Homo sapiens: one gene and its partners. The protein of the gene in region 3 purifies or fractionates together with the protein of the main gene of each other region. This does not show direct contact. Each region holds a gene or a part of one and is shown on either strand. Other genes may lie near its edges.

Evidence for each region.
Region 1: the proteins of CX3CL1 (region 3) and SLC20A1 purify together in Homo sapiens (affinity purification with mass spectrometry; one large-scale study listed by BioGRID and IntAct). This does not show direct contact.
Region 2: the proteins of CX3CL1 (region 3) and PKN3 purify together in Homo sapiens (affinity purification with mass spectrometry; one large-scale study listed by BioGRID and IntAct). This does not show direct contact.
Region 4: the proteins of CX3CL1 (region 3) and PLEKHH3 purify together in Homo sapiens (affinity purification with mass spectrometry; one large-scale study listed by BioGRID and IntAct). This does not show direct contact.

Annotation. Positions count from the first base shown.
Region 1 is NC_000002.12:112,659,439-112,662,938, forward strand, and holds part of SLC20A1 (sodium-dependent phosphate transporter 1), read left to right. Parts: coding exon 1-324; intron 325-948; coding exon 949-1,134; intron 1,135-1,703; coding exon 1,704-1,788; intron 1,789-3,425; coding exon 3,426-3,500. UniProt on the Homo sapiens protein: Sodium-phosphate symporter which preferentially transports the monovalent form of phosphate with a stoichiometry of two sodium ions per phosphate ion. May play a role in extracellular matrix and cartilage calcification as well as in vascular calcification.
Region 2 is NC_000009.12:128,712,503-128,716,002, reverse strand, and holds part of PKN3 (serine/threonine-protein kinase N3), read right to left. Parts: intron 2,952-3,500; coding exon 2,805-2,951; intron 2,726-2,804; coding exon 2,616-2,725; intron 2,505-2,615; coding exon 2,361-2,504; intron 1,958-2,360; coding exon 1,882-1,957; intron 1,807-1,881; coding exon 1,638-1,806; intron 1,442-1,637; coding exon 1,339-1,441; intron 1,206-1,338; coding exon 1,138-1,205; intron 832-1,137; coding exon 768-831; intron 635-767; coding exon 543-634; intron 1-542.
Region 3 is NC_000016.10:57,375,490-57,378,989, reverse strand, and holds part of CX3CL1 (fractalkine isoform 1 precursor), read right to left. Parts: intron 1-3,500. UniProt on the Homo sapiens protein: Chemokine that acts as a ligand for both CX3CR1 and integrins ITGAV:ITGB3 and ITGA4:ITGB1. The CX3CR1-CX3CL1 signaling exerts distinct functions in different tissue compartments, such as immune response, inflammation, cell adhesion and chemotaxis.
Region 4 is NC_000017.11:42,670,705-42,673,994, reverse strand, and holds part of PLEKHH3 (pleckstrin homology domain-containing family H member 3 isoform 1 precursor), read left to right. Parts: coding exon 1-61; intron 62-160; coding exon 161-352; intron 353-438; coding exon 439-596; intron 597-698; coding exon 699-819; intron 820-1,602; coding exon 1,603-1,909; intron 1,910-2,436; coding exon 2,437-2,644; intron 2,645-2,864; coding exon 2,865-3,001; intron 3,002-3,289; coding exon 3,290-3,290.

The DNA.
Region 1 (3,500 bases), on a different chromosome or scaffold from region 3:
GCCTCTGGATTCATTCCGTGCCAAAGAAGGTGAACAGAAGGGCGAAGAAATGGAGAAGCTGACATGGCCTAATGCAGACTCCAAGAAGCGAATTCGAATGGACAGTTACACCAGTTACTGCAATGCTGTGTCTGACCTTCACTCAGCATCTGAGATAGACATGAGTGTCAAGGCAGAGATGGGTCTAGGTGACAGAAAAGGAAGTAATGGCTCTCTAGAAGAATGGTATGACCAGGATAAGCCTGAAGTCTCTCTCCTCTTCCAGTTCCTGCAGATCCTTACAGCCTGCTTTGGGTCATTCGCCCATGGTGGCAATGACGTAAGGTCAGTTGACATTGATCTTAGTGTTGCTAACCCTATTTTTAAACCATTTATCCTTGTCACAGGCCTGTGCTTGTGGTAGTGGTACTCCTAGCATTTACAGGACCCCAAATAATACAAATAGGATGAGGTAATAGCAGTTATTGACATAATAAGACAGTACAGTTTTATTCTTCAGAGGAATTACAAAGAATGTTTATTTTTGTAGATGATAAATATAAACAGATACTCTTCACAGAGAAGGCTTTTGTCCATCAAGATGAGATTCAGTTCTTTGGTAGTGAATTGTGGGATGTAAGATGTAAGATGAAAAACTTAAAAGTTTTTCATATAGAATGATTTTGTAGTTTGGTTTGTAAACTGTTTATTGGAACCTGAGAGTTGCTTTAAGCTGCCTATAGGAGGAAAGAGGCCACCATTTGCCTGGCATTCCCTCCATCAGAGCTGTGTTCATTTTTCTGTTGTGTATGTTGGGGTTCCATTTATGTCTTTAGAAAGAAAGGCCCTTTTGCCAGATGAGCTTGAAAGCTGTACTTTAGACAACCTGGTAGATCATTCAGCAGATTGGGTCTTGCCAAGATCTAGTTCTGCCTGAAAAGTCACTTCTGCCCTCTTTGTTTCTTCCAGCAATGCCATTGGGCCTCTGGTTGCTTTATATTTGGTTTATGACACAGGAGATGTTTCTTCAAAAGTGGCAACACCAATATGGCTTCTACTCTATGGTGGTGTTGGTATCTGTGTTGGTCTGTGGGTTTGGGGAAGAAGAGTTATCCAGACCATGGGGAAGGATCTGACACCGATCACACCCTCTAGGTAAGTAGGTGGAGCAGGTTCTACAAATGTCAGTACTCATTTTTTTCAGAGATATAACACTGTCGAGTGCTAACACAAATCTCTAAAGTAACCAAGTTTGTATAAGTTCATGATGTTCTTATTGTCATTGTTCTTTTTAGATTTTACTTGTCTGGCCCTTAAACATTTTGGTCAGACATTTTACCCATTTAGCTCTGGTGGTCTCTGAAGAAAATGACTTTTCTGAGAAAGCTGTGTATGCTAAGAGCGGATAGTTATGTATACTTGCCTTTTATTTGTCTTGGGAGCTAAGACTCAATGTTTACCAAACTCTTCAAAATAAAAGTGCAAATTTTATTTAATAGTGGGATTCCAGAAAAACGTAAAACTGGAAGCCTTTGAATAAGGAAACTGGGCATCTGTGGCCTGATTTAAATAAAGTAGATCTTAGGGGTTATAGCAAATAAAGATGTCAGTGGAGGTTTTGTGACTGAGTAGAACAAAGCAGGACTGTGTTAACTTGAGGTGTAGTGTTAGCTTCTCAAAAAAGTCAAACTCACTTCCTGACAAGAATCCTTTTGTGTCTGTAGTGGCTTCAGTATTGAACTGGCATCTGCCCTCACTGTGGTGATTGCATCAAATATTGGCCTTCCCATCAGTACAACACATTGTAAAGTAAGTGTAATGCCAATGTGTGTCTTTCAAATGGTTCTTCTAATATGTAGGGTTTTTAGTTTTACTTCTCTGATACTTTGATTTAGAAAGTTTTGTGCAGTTGGAGTCTTGAAGAGTTCATAAGTTATTTCTTGTGTTTATTCTTATTTAAGCAATTAAATAGATATTCTCCCCAAATAATAGAAACATTGTTTTATATACAGCTTACTGTAGTTTCTGGCTACTAACCTCTTCCTTTGTTACTTTATCCTCCCTCATTGTAGTCTCTTTATAATAATTTTTTTTTTAATCTCAAGAGTCATTTCTACTTGGCACCATTATGTTTTATTTATTTATGTATGAGTTGGAGTCTTGCTGTGTCACCTGGGCTGGAGTTCAGTGGCACAATCTCGGCTCATTGCAACCTCCGCCTCCTGGGCTCAAGTGATTCTTGTGCTTCAGCCTCTCAAGTAGCTGGGATTATAGGCACCCGCCACCATGCCTGGCTAATTTTTGTATTTTTAGTAGACACAGGATTTCACCATGTTGGCCAAGCTGGTCATGAACTCCTAACCTCAGGTGATCCACCTGGCTCGGCCTCCCAAAGTGCTAGGATTACATGCGTGAGCCACCGCGCCCGGCCGACAGCATTATGTTCTTTGCCTTTGGGGAAGCCATTCAGAGCAGGGTAGGTGTATGCTTAGAAACTGGCAGGTGCTTTAATTCTGGCCAGGTGGGTTTCTGCTGCCATTTGTGGTGGCTGAAGGCCTGGTTCTAACAAGTCTGTGAGGCTTGCCAAAATGTTGGCAAAGCAGTTTATTTACAGAAGGCATATTTCAGGGCCTCTCAGGATTGAAATACTGAGAAACAAAACAAATCTTAAGGTTGTTTGATGACAATCTAATAATTATAGGAGAAGGAAGAAACTGGTTTCCTTAAGAGCATTTAAGCTGGTCCATCATGGATCCTGCTGAGTCATCTGTTTGCTACCCGGATGTGTCTCCAGACAATTGTTTATTAGGTTTAATATCAGCCACTCTGTAAATAATCTTAGGAAGACTTACAATGCAATTTGTTATTAAAAGCAGTGTATAGGCCAGGTGCAGTGGCTCATGCCTGTAATCCCAGCACTTTGGGAGGCCAAGGCAGGTGGATCACAAGGTCAGGAGTTTGAGACCAGCCTGGCCAACATAGTGAAACCCCATCTCTACTAAAAATACAAAAAATTAGCTAGGCGTGGTGGTGGGTGCCTGTAATCCCAGCACTTGGGAGGCTGAGGCAGGAGAATCACATGAAACCAGGAGGTGGAGGTTGCAGTGAGCCAAGATTGCGCCACTGTACTCCAGCCTGGGCGACAGTGCGAGACTCCGTCTCAAAAAATAAATAAATAAAAGCAGTATATATTCATTAAATTTTAGCAGTAGCTGAGAAGGGGAAAAGAAATAGTTCTTGTGTCCTTTTACTACCGTTAGTATAGATTATGATTGGATTTTCAAATTGCCTTCATTTTCCCAGCTTAACCTGTTGTAAACCAGCTTTCTTGGACTTTGTCTTGTCCAGGGGTCTGGGGCTCCTTGTCCAAACAGTCTCAGGTGTCTGTTTGCCAGAATACCACTGGCACTTCAATAACCTGTTTCCTTGGTCTGCTTCTCTTCTAGGTGGGCTCTGTTGTGTCTGTTGGCTGGCTCCGGTCCAAGAAGGCTGTTGACTGGCGTCTCTTTCGTAACATTTTT
Region 2 (3,500 bases), on a different chromosome or scaffold from region 3:
AATTAGTTTTTTTAGATGAGGTCTCATTCTGTTGCCCAGGCTGGAGATCTCTGCTAACTATAACCTCTACCTCCTGGGCTTAAGCAATCCTCTCACCTCACCCTCCCAAGTAGCTGGGACTAAAGGCACATGCCACCATGTCTGGCTATTTTTTATAGATGGGGTTTCACCATGTGATTCAGATTGGTCTTGAACTCCTGGACTCAAGTGATCCGCCTGCCTTGGCCTCCCAAAGTGCTGGGGTTACATGCATGAGTTACCACGCCTGGCCATAGAGTGATGGTTTCTATATGTCAGGGGCTCACAAGGAGCTCTGAACGTGCACAGCCACCAATGCCCCCATTTTACAGTAGAGCAAACTGACAGAGAGAAGAGGGGACCTGCCCAAGGAAACACAGTTAACAACTGCAGGTGCCAAAAGAGAATGCAGGCTGGCTGGCCCCACGGGGTCACCTCTCCAAAGCCCCAGGAACCTTCAACTGCCCTCTGGATGCCACAGCCCAGGCCAGCCATCCTGGGTGCCCTGCGGCACCCCCACACACCTCTCTATCTCGTCCCGGCTGAGCACCTCCTGCTTCTTCAGTGCTTTGATGGCGTAGTATTTCCCTGTCCCCTTGAACTGGACCAGGAGGACCTGGGGCCAGAGAGAGGTTGTGCTCCAGGTGGGCCAGACCAGGGAGCCTTTACCGCCCCCACAGATCAGGTCCTCCCGGCTCATGTGATGAGGCCCCCAATCCCGTCCCATACCACCCTCTTCAGCCCACTACCTTCCCAAAGTGTCCCCGGCCCAGCACAGCTAAGCAGCGGAAGTCCTGAAGCCGAGGGGGTTTCCTGCAAAGGAAGAGAGGGTATATGAAGTCCCCTAGGGCACTGGCTGGGCCCCTACCCAGAGCCACTCCAAGCCTCCCATGCCCAGTCCTGGGCTGTCCCGACCTATGGGCTCGAAAAAGCCCTGCAGTAAGGACTCCTAGAAGCCGGCATAGAGCTGGAGCTCAATAATGTGGGTTTAGTAAATCAGACCCCGAGAGCCAGTCAGCGCACCCGCCAGGGAGCCAGGGAGTAATGTATGAATGGATACACAAATGTTCAAGCAAGCAGACGAACGTCTCAAACATGAAGGTGCGCAGGATGGGGTACCTGGTGGGGGAGGCTGGTGGAGATGGCCCACGTCGAGTCCTAGGCTCCATATGGGGACGTTTGGTGCGCTGTGAGTATAGAGGAGCTCAGGGCAGGGCTGGGCTTCCTTCTCTCTTTCCCTTCAGGCCTGCCACCCCACAGCTGGGTGGCCCTGCCAGCCCCAGCCGGCCCTAGGAGCCACTAGTCCCTCCAGCCCCTCACCGGAGTCTCCTCGGATGTTGGCTCCTGGGGGAGGTAGAGGCGTGGGGGCTTGGGTGGGGGTGTCATCTCTTCACCCAAGGGGGTCTTCTTGGGCAGGAAATTACTGTAGGGAGAAAGTAGACACAGTGCCCAGCACAGGCAGACGCAAGAGCTGGCAGGATGGACACACCAACCCAAAGTGAGATGGACAGAGGGTTAGCGGGCTGAGCAATGCAGACAGACAGACAGATACCGCCTGGATCTGGAGTCAGGAAGCCGCCACAGAGGAGCATGCAGTCTAGGGCAAGGGAGCTCCTCACCTGGGAGTGGCAGGGTCAGAGGCCTCTCGCAGTGTTGTTGGGGTCCGAGGGCATCCTTTAGGGGGGCTGATTGTGCTCGGGGAGCTGCAGGGGGGCAGCAGGTTCATGACGAGGCGCCCCCAGGCCGCCATGCCGAGGTTCATCTGCGAAGCCCTCAGGAAGTCCTGGCCTGGGAGAAAAGGGGGAGCTTAGTCCCGGGACCCCAGCCCTGCTCCCTCACACATAGCCCCCATTCCCTCCACACCTCTGCGTTTAGAGAAGATGCGTTCCTGCCTCTGCAGCCGGGGCCGCCTCTCAATGACAGGATCGCAGAAGGTCACCTGCAGGGGTAGGGGCAGGGTTGTGGACCAGTCGCCTCCCATCTCATCTGCCATGGCACCTCCTCTGCCCCTGGGATTACAGCCCAAGCCCCCAGGGTCAACAGATGCAAGAGCCAGAAAGACCCAGAGAAACAGATTCAATGTCCTCATTGATACTAGTGGAGAAACAGAGGCCCAGGGAGGAGAGGCACTTTTCCAGGGTCACACCTGAGGCAGGGCAGTCAGGACAAGGACCCAGGCCTCCAGATGCAGCCCTGAGAGAGCGGCTAGGAGCCCTTATTCCTGGAGCCCTCCTCTCTGGTCGTCAGTCTCTGCACCTACACGCAGTGCATCGGTCTTGAAGGCCTTCCTGGCCCTGACGCCCCAGGGTCCCACCAAGTCAGAGGGCGGAGGTGGTGAGCACCTGGGCAAAAAGCAGTCCCTGCGGTACCAGGCTGAGGGACAGTTGGTGACAGGCATTGTCCAGGAAGTCCTCAAGTCTCAGGAAGGCCACGCCACATAGCTGCCGCCAGTCCCGCCAGTGTACCCCAATCTCCAGCTCACGGGCCTGTATTGGGGAGGCCAGGCTGAAGGGTGGGGTGCAGAACGAGCCCCGACCTGGGCAGCCTTCCACCCCGCAGCCCAAGGTCACCCCTGACCACACAAAGGCCAGCCTTACTCGCTCCAGTGGGATGACAAAGGTCTGGTCCCAGGACTGTTCGGCCACCTGCCCCCAGCCCGTCTGCCCCACAACACGGTTGTCCACCTTTAGCACAGCCAGCACCTCGCCTGCAGGGCCAGAGCCGGGACTCAGGGCAGGCCTGAAGCAGGGGTCTCCTGCTCCCCCTGAAGCTCCTTCCCTACTCACTGGCAAGCTCGCCTCGGCCACGCTGGTGCTTGGCCTTGGTCCGAAGCCAGCCCTCGGAGGGGCTGCTGGCCAGTGCGGCCGCTGGGGAGCGCCCAGGCACGGCTGTCAGCAACTGTTCACAGCCCAGGAGGCGGACCTGCAGTGTCCCTGTGGGGAGAGTGAGCGGGGGGCGTTGTCAGATGCCATCTTCCCACTGCTACCACCAAGGTGTCCTGGGACCCCAGGAAGGCCACCCTCTCCAGGAGGTGGCTGAACCCAGACCGTACCCACCTGAGGCCAGGGCAGTTACCTGAGGAACCTCACTCAGTGTGGCGGCCTAGAGTGCCTAGACTGGAGCCTGCTGACTGTCCTGCAGCTCCCAAGCACCATGAGCCCCCCAAAGGGTACCCTTGGACCCCGATGACACCCTAGGAGGCCTCCGACCTGGACACTCCCAGGTGAGGAGCCACGTTGTCCCAGAATGCACACTTCTCTGTGGCAGCCACCTCTTTCCAGGGCAGAGCAACTGGCTCTCCCCTCCACATGCTGGAGCGGCAGGGACATAGGCTCAGACCTCAGACCTTAGCCAGGCTGCACAGAGCCACAGCACATGACGAGATGCTGCCTAGAAGTGGGGCCTAGAGAGCACTGTGGCAAGGATAAGAGCTTGGGACAGGGAGCAGGAAGCCTGGCTTCCTGTCCGGACCCACCTGCTCC
Region 3 (3,500 bases):
ACAGGGACCTGCTAAGGTCACACAGCCAGCAAGTGATGGAGCAGGTTCTCCTGCTCTAGTCCCCACCGGGCCTGTGGCCTTGCCTATCCCCTCACCTCTGCCTTATTTCTTCCCGCTGCCATTTTTTTTTAAGAGATAGGGTCTTGTTCTGTTGCCCAGGCTGGAGTGCAGTGGTATAATCCTAGCTCACGGCAACCTCAAAATCCTGGGCTCAAGAAATCCTCCTGGCCGGGTGCGGTGGCTCACACCTGTAATCCCAGCACTTTGGGAGGCCGAGACAGATAGATCATCTGAGGTCAGGAGTTTGAGACCAGCCTGATCAATATGGTGAAACCTTGTCTCTACTACAAATACACAAATTAGCCTGGCATGATGGTGTGCACCTTTAGTCCCAGCTACTCGGGAAGCTGAGACAGGAGAATTGCTTGAATCCGGGAGGCAGAGGTTGCAGTGAGCTGAGATCATACCACTGCACTAAAGCCTGGGTGACAGAACAAGACTCCGTCTCAAAAAAAAAAGAAAAAAAAAAAAGAGATCTCTTGCCTCAGCCTCCCAAGTAGCTGGGACTACAGGTGCCTGCTACCATGCCTGGCTAATTTTTTTAAGAGACAGGGTCTTGCTATGTTGCCCAGGCTGGTCTTGAACCCCGACCGCAAGTGATTCTCCCACTTCAACCTCCGGAATAGCTGGGATTACAGATGTAAGCCACTATGCCCAGCAATAAACTTTTTAAAAAATATATAAGTACAACTGCTTTCTAAGGAAGGTGGGGTCTGCTGAATAGATGATCCTTTGTTCTGCTGCTGAGAGCCAGAATGAGCCCGAGAGCAGTTGCTGAAAGGTACTGAGTCATCCTGCCTAGGAGGGAAGAGGCATTTGAAATTCCTGGAGCAAGAAGAGTAAGGAGGAGGGTTGGAGATGGACGGTATGAATAAGGTGGGGGCAGAGTGGGGCGGAAGGGGCAGGCAGTAGCTGAGTGTCACGTGGAACCAGAGAGAAACCCCGGGACAGGACAAATAAACCCAACTATTTGATATAAACATTTGAAGTTGTTTACATTGAATTTCCACCTTTTCTCTTCCTCTATAATCTCCAGCAAATTTTCTTCTGCTTAGCTTGAGCTCAAGGAGGATGAGTATAAAAAACAAGGAAGAGCTTGAGTTTCAGATCTGAGTCAAGGTTATATGCAGCAAAAGCAAGACCCCAGAGGGTTTTGCAAACATCTGGAGACCAGGGCAGTCAAGAGAGCAAGCTGATCTTATCTAGCCCTTCAGAGCCTGGGAAACCCCCAGGGCATCCCTGGGCTCCACCAGAACACGAACTGCTCATGCATAAATATTTACATATATGTGGCCATGCAAACATACACCACTTTCCCAAATACAGGCACATGCACGCTTGCACACACAGAGAGACTTTGTAGAGTCTGCTGCTTCCTCTCTCCATCGCTCCCCCTTAGCTTTGGCCCACCCTGCTTTGTGGGAAGGTGGTTTAGGGCCGGCAGGTCTGGGTTGAGTCATCAAGGAGAAGCACTAGTAGCTTCAGGGGGTTGGGGGCTGTGTGCAGGAGGGGCTCCCCAGGTCACAGGGCTGTCCTTTCTCTCTGAGTAACCAGGATATAAAAGTCACTGTGTGGGCTGGCCACCCTCCTTCTGCAATGGAACCTCAGACTGACTCACCTGCAGCCTCCCCAGGCCCTATTGAGTGGAGCCAGGTGGCAGTCCCCTAAAATGGCCTGCAGGTGTCTTCTTTGGGAAGCCCCAGAAAATACGGTGCCCCTGAGTGACCAGAGACAGGAGGAGGCAAGGGAGGCTGCCCAATGGATAGGAAAGAAGGTCCATTCTGTGCTCCCCAAATCCAAGATGGGAAAAGCCATTGCCCACCTCCAGGGCTTTAAAGAGCCACAGAGTCATCCTGTCTCCAAAGTCCCCACCCTCTGCCACGGTCCCTGAATGGTCCTGGCCCGGCTCAGTTCTTGGTTCTGCCAGGAAGATTGTTTAACTGACCTGGGGAGCCTGTCCCTTCTCAGAGCTGAAATTTTCCTTTCTGTAAATGGAGACAATGCCTCATCCAGCCAGTCATATATTATCTGTCATAGGAGTGTCAGGAAGGCAGGGACCTTGTCTGTCTTGGTATCATAGTTTCCCAGCATCAAGCACAAGGTGGATACTCAATCAATATTCATTGAATGAAATTAGTCTCAGTTTACTTATCTCTCTTTAATGCATCTATCTACCTATCCATCCACCCGTCCACCCACTCTTATCAATCTTCTACCCATTCCTCGCCCACCTGCCACCTCCTGCCCAACCCCTATTCATCTCCATTCATCCATCTACCCACTCCCTCTCCCCTACCTACCACCTGTCAATCTTCCGCCCCCTTTTATCTCACCTACTCATCCATCCCTCATCATCCCCTCCCCATCCCTTCTTCCATCCATCCATCTGTCCATCCATCCACCCATCCATCCATCCATCCATTCATCCATCTATCCACCCATCCATCCATCCATCCATCCATCCATCCATCCATCCATCCATCCATCCACTTCCTGATTCAGCCAACACTGGCTGGAATTACTTTTGAGTATATACAAAAATCTCAGGCCCTCTTATCCTTAACCTTGAGCTCTTTCTCCCATAGGCACTGGTGCTGAGTTTGAAGAGAGTGCTTCCATCCCAATAAATGCCATCAGATCACTCTGTTTATTCAGTCAACCAACAAATGCTGGTTCCTCTTGCCAGGCCCTGTGCTGGGTGCTGTGAGGTACAGTGAGATGAACAAGGAATGCCTCTGGCCTCAGAAGGCTCCCAGCCTGATGGACAGGTAAATTAGGCACACAAAGTATCAGAGGTTTTATTTATTTTTTTTAATTGAACACCTACTGTGTATTGGACCCTGTGTCCAGCATGTACACATCTGCTCTCTTTAATTCCCAACATTCCTGCAAAGGGAGTATTATCCCAACTTTACAGATGCAGAAGCTGGAAATAAGAGAGGCTAAATGTGCCCAGTGCCACACAGCTGCATGGTGGCAGAGCTAGTTTTCTACTCAGCCCCTAAACACCCCACTGTTCTAGGCTACCCTAGATGCCAGGTAGAAACACAGTGTTCCAGAACATACCACAAACATATTGGGGTTTACATGAGGGAGAGACCACTTCCAACTTCAAATGGTCAGGGGAGGCTTCTTGGAGGAATTCTCCTTTAGGCTGGACCTCAAGGACTTCTAAGAGTCTTCCAGGGTCTTAGAAGGAGACTCAGGAAATGTCCTGGGTTGCTGGATGAGGTGATAAAGGGAGGGCTTGAGCCATTGCCCAGCTGTGTGTCCTGAGCAAGTCACTCGGACTCCCTGAGCCTCAGTTTCCTTACTTGTAAAATGGATGTGACAATACCTGCTTCACAGTGTGGTTGTGAGAATAAGAATTTTTTAACTTCTGGAGCATTTTTCCCTTAGGGCAAGGTTTCTCAACAGTGACACTACTGACATTTTGGACC
Region 4 (3,290 bases), on a different chromosome or scaffold from region 3:
ACTTGGAGCCTCATCCCGGAGAAAGGGCTGCCGGAGGACGACCCGGACATCGTTGTGAAAGGTAGAGACCCCCCTCAGTGCACTCTGGAGGCCCCCAATCCCAACCCCCTAGGGATTAATGTCTCTACTGATGTCCCTTCCCTCCCTCTCCGGCCCCCAGGTTGGCTGTACCGGGAGCCCCGCGGAGGAGGGGCGCGGCCCTGGCTGCCCCCGCGCCGAGCCTGGTTTGTGCTCACGCGGGACTCCCTGGATCAGTTCAGCAGCAGCGGGAAAGGGGCGCGGCGTCTCGGGAGCCTCGTGCTCACCAGCCTGTGCTCGGTGACCGGCCCAGAGCGCAGGCGTAAGGAGACAGGTGAGACCTCCTGGGGACTCTCCTACCTTCCTAGGCAGGGGCCCCGGCAGACCCTAATGGCCCTCCCTGGCCTCTCTTTTCCCCAGGTCTGTGGTCAGTGACTGTGTCTGGTCGGAAACACAGTGTCCGCCTCTGCTCCCCACGCCAGGCAGAGGCTGAGCGCTGGGGGGTGGCATTGCGGGAAGTGATCGCCTCCAAGGCACCCCTGGAGACCCCCACCCAGCTACTGCTCAGGGACATACAGGTACACACCAGGGAGAGCCAGGAGAGTGGTGGACCCCAAAGCTTTCTGGGGTTGTGAGGAACTCCCTTCCCCATCAAGGTGACCCTCTCCCTGGCCCCCTAGGAAAGTTGCGGGGACCCAGAGGCCGTTGCCCTCATTTACCTGAGGAACCCGATTCTGAGACACACTAGTGGAGCCTTGTATGCCCCACTCCTGCCCCTGCCCTATGGAGTCAGCGCCCCAGGTGAGTGGTCCCATGGCCCAAGTCCCCTGGATGGGATGGGGTGGTTCAGAGGTAAGAATCTGAATCCCTTAACTGGCAGGGATCTAAGCATCCTTCATGGACCTGCCAGCTCCTCACTTTTCGAAGGATGAAGGTGAAACTGGAAGCTGGCCAGGGTGGAGGAGAGGAAGCCAGCACACACAAAAGGGCCCCCTTTGGCCACCTTCTCTATGGGTCTCATTCTGACTACTGATGTTCCTTCAGGAGTTTGTACACTCCCCTATTTTTTCATTATCCTCTTGAGACTATGCCATATTACCTTTACAAGTGGTAGAAAAGCTACCACTTTTGTAGAATGTGCTGGCCTCATCCAACTGTACTTCTCCCTAAACGGTGTAGTGACTGGCCCAGGTCCTAAAGTTAGAGGATTAAAGGGTGCTGGGAGAGGAACCCCGGTTTTCTGACTCCTAGTCCAGCCTGTTTTCTGACCTATGGTGGTGAGCCTCAGTATGGAGTTACAGAATCTGGGGTGTGAATCTACAGCCCTTCCCGGCCGTCCGTCTCCCTAAGTCCAAATGCAGGCTTAGTGGGATTGGGAAGGGGATTCCTGGGAGGCAGAGGTTGAGAGTCTGGCTCCGTGGGACCACTGCTTTCCCTTCACTCTTCCTGTCGTTCGTACCCTCCCCTCCCTGCCACCCCATCCCCTTATATTCCCTCTGACCTTCCCCTGGTTCATGCCTTCCTCCCAGGGCGCAGCTCTGTGTCCCCTCTCCAAACCGTCCCTCCGCCCCCACCCTCCCACAGGTCCGGGCTATGCACCCCTGCGCGAGGAGGCGGTGCGGCTGTTCTTGGCGCTGCAGGCGCTGGAGGGGGCGCGGCGCCCCGGGCCCTTGATGCAGGGTGTGCTCCAAACCTGCCGGGACTTGCCCGCGCTCCGGGATGAACTCTTCCTGCAGCTGGCTAAGCAGACCTCGGGCCCTGCAGGTCCCCCCGGGCTCCCGGCTACCCAAGACCCTGCGGCCCTGCGGTACTGGCAACTCCTCACCTGCATGAGCTGCACCTTCCGACCTGGGGGAGCTGTGCGGGGGCACCTCCTGGGGCACTTGGAGAGGTGAGAGGGGCGAGGTGGGGGTTACGGCCTAGGCGAGGAGCTACCGGGCTGGGAGAGAATGAAAGGTCTTTTGCAAAAGACTTGGTAGGTAAAGAACCGAGTAATACATACAGTGCCTTTGTGGGAGATACAAGATCCTATCGCAGTTGTGAGCGGATGAATTACAATAAAACGCCCCCCTTGGGCTGAGGAGTTATGAAAAGGCTGCTTTTCCTCCAGCTGATGCAGGCCAGCGCCAGGGCTTAGGAAAATGTAGTAAAGTGGCTGGATTTCGATTTCAGGCCGAAGGAAGATCACGAAGACTTTTGGAAGTGGTGGAGGCAGTTGGGAGAAAGCTGCCAGGGGACTTGAAAAGTAATTCAGCTCTATGCAAAGCACTGGGGAGAGATTTAGAAGAGCCTTCAAAGAACTTGAGTTGGGGCGGGGAGGAAATCGGCTAGATAAAATAAACTATAAGAGAAGCAGGCAAGAGGGAGGGGGAGAAGAAAGCCCTTGGAGTATTGATCCCTGGGTTCCTCCTAACCCAGGACCGAGCAGGCACTCCCGGACTCGGAACTGGCGGAATATGCGCGCTTCATCCGGAAAGCGCTGGGCCGGACGCGCGGCAGAGAGCTGGTGCCCTCGCTGGCGGAGATTTCCGCGTTGAGCCAACGGCAGGAGCTGCTGTGTACCGTGCACTGTCCGGGGGCTGGTGCCTGTGCTGTGGCCATCGACTCCCACACCACGGCGGGGGAGGTGAGGCCAGAGAAAGGCCCCATGACCTCCAACCCACCCTGCCAGCTTCTCACGCCTGTCTCTCCCTCTTCCTGGACCCTAGGTTTGCCCCGAGTCTAGATTATTTTGGTAAGGGAGGGAGTGGTGGTGACAGGACTAAGAGACCCCTTCCAATTGAATCAACCCCTCCCAGAATCCTGGCAAGACCTCTGAGTGGTCTCCCCTCACCCTCCTCTTCTAGGTGGCTCGAGAGCTGGTGGGGCGGCTGGGCTTGGCCCGGAGCCGCAACGCATTCGCGCTGTACGAGCAGCGAGGGGCCCAGGAGCGAGCCCTGGCTGGGGGGACCCTCGTGGCCGACGTGCTCACCAGGTTTGAGAAGTAAATGTCCAGCCCCAGCCCTGCTCTCTATTAGCCCATCCACTTCTCAGCTGAGGTCAGTCTCTAAGCGGACATTATCCAGCGCTTGCCCCTGGCCCTGCGCTGTGGTGTTCGCTGGTTTACAGACGGACCTGCCCGCCGCAGGTTTGCAGTCCGACTGCAGCATCACCTCCGCTGTCGGCTCCGCCCAGGCCCCGCCCCAAACACATGGCCCCGCCCCCACCCCAAGCTGCCCTCGCCGTAGGGGTCCGGCTTCTCCCTAGCGCTTCGTCCGCTCCTCTTCTGCAGC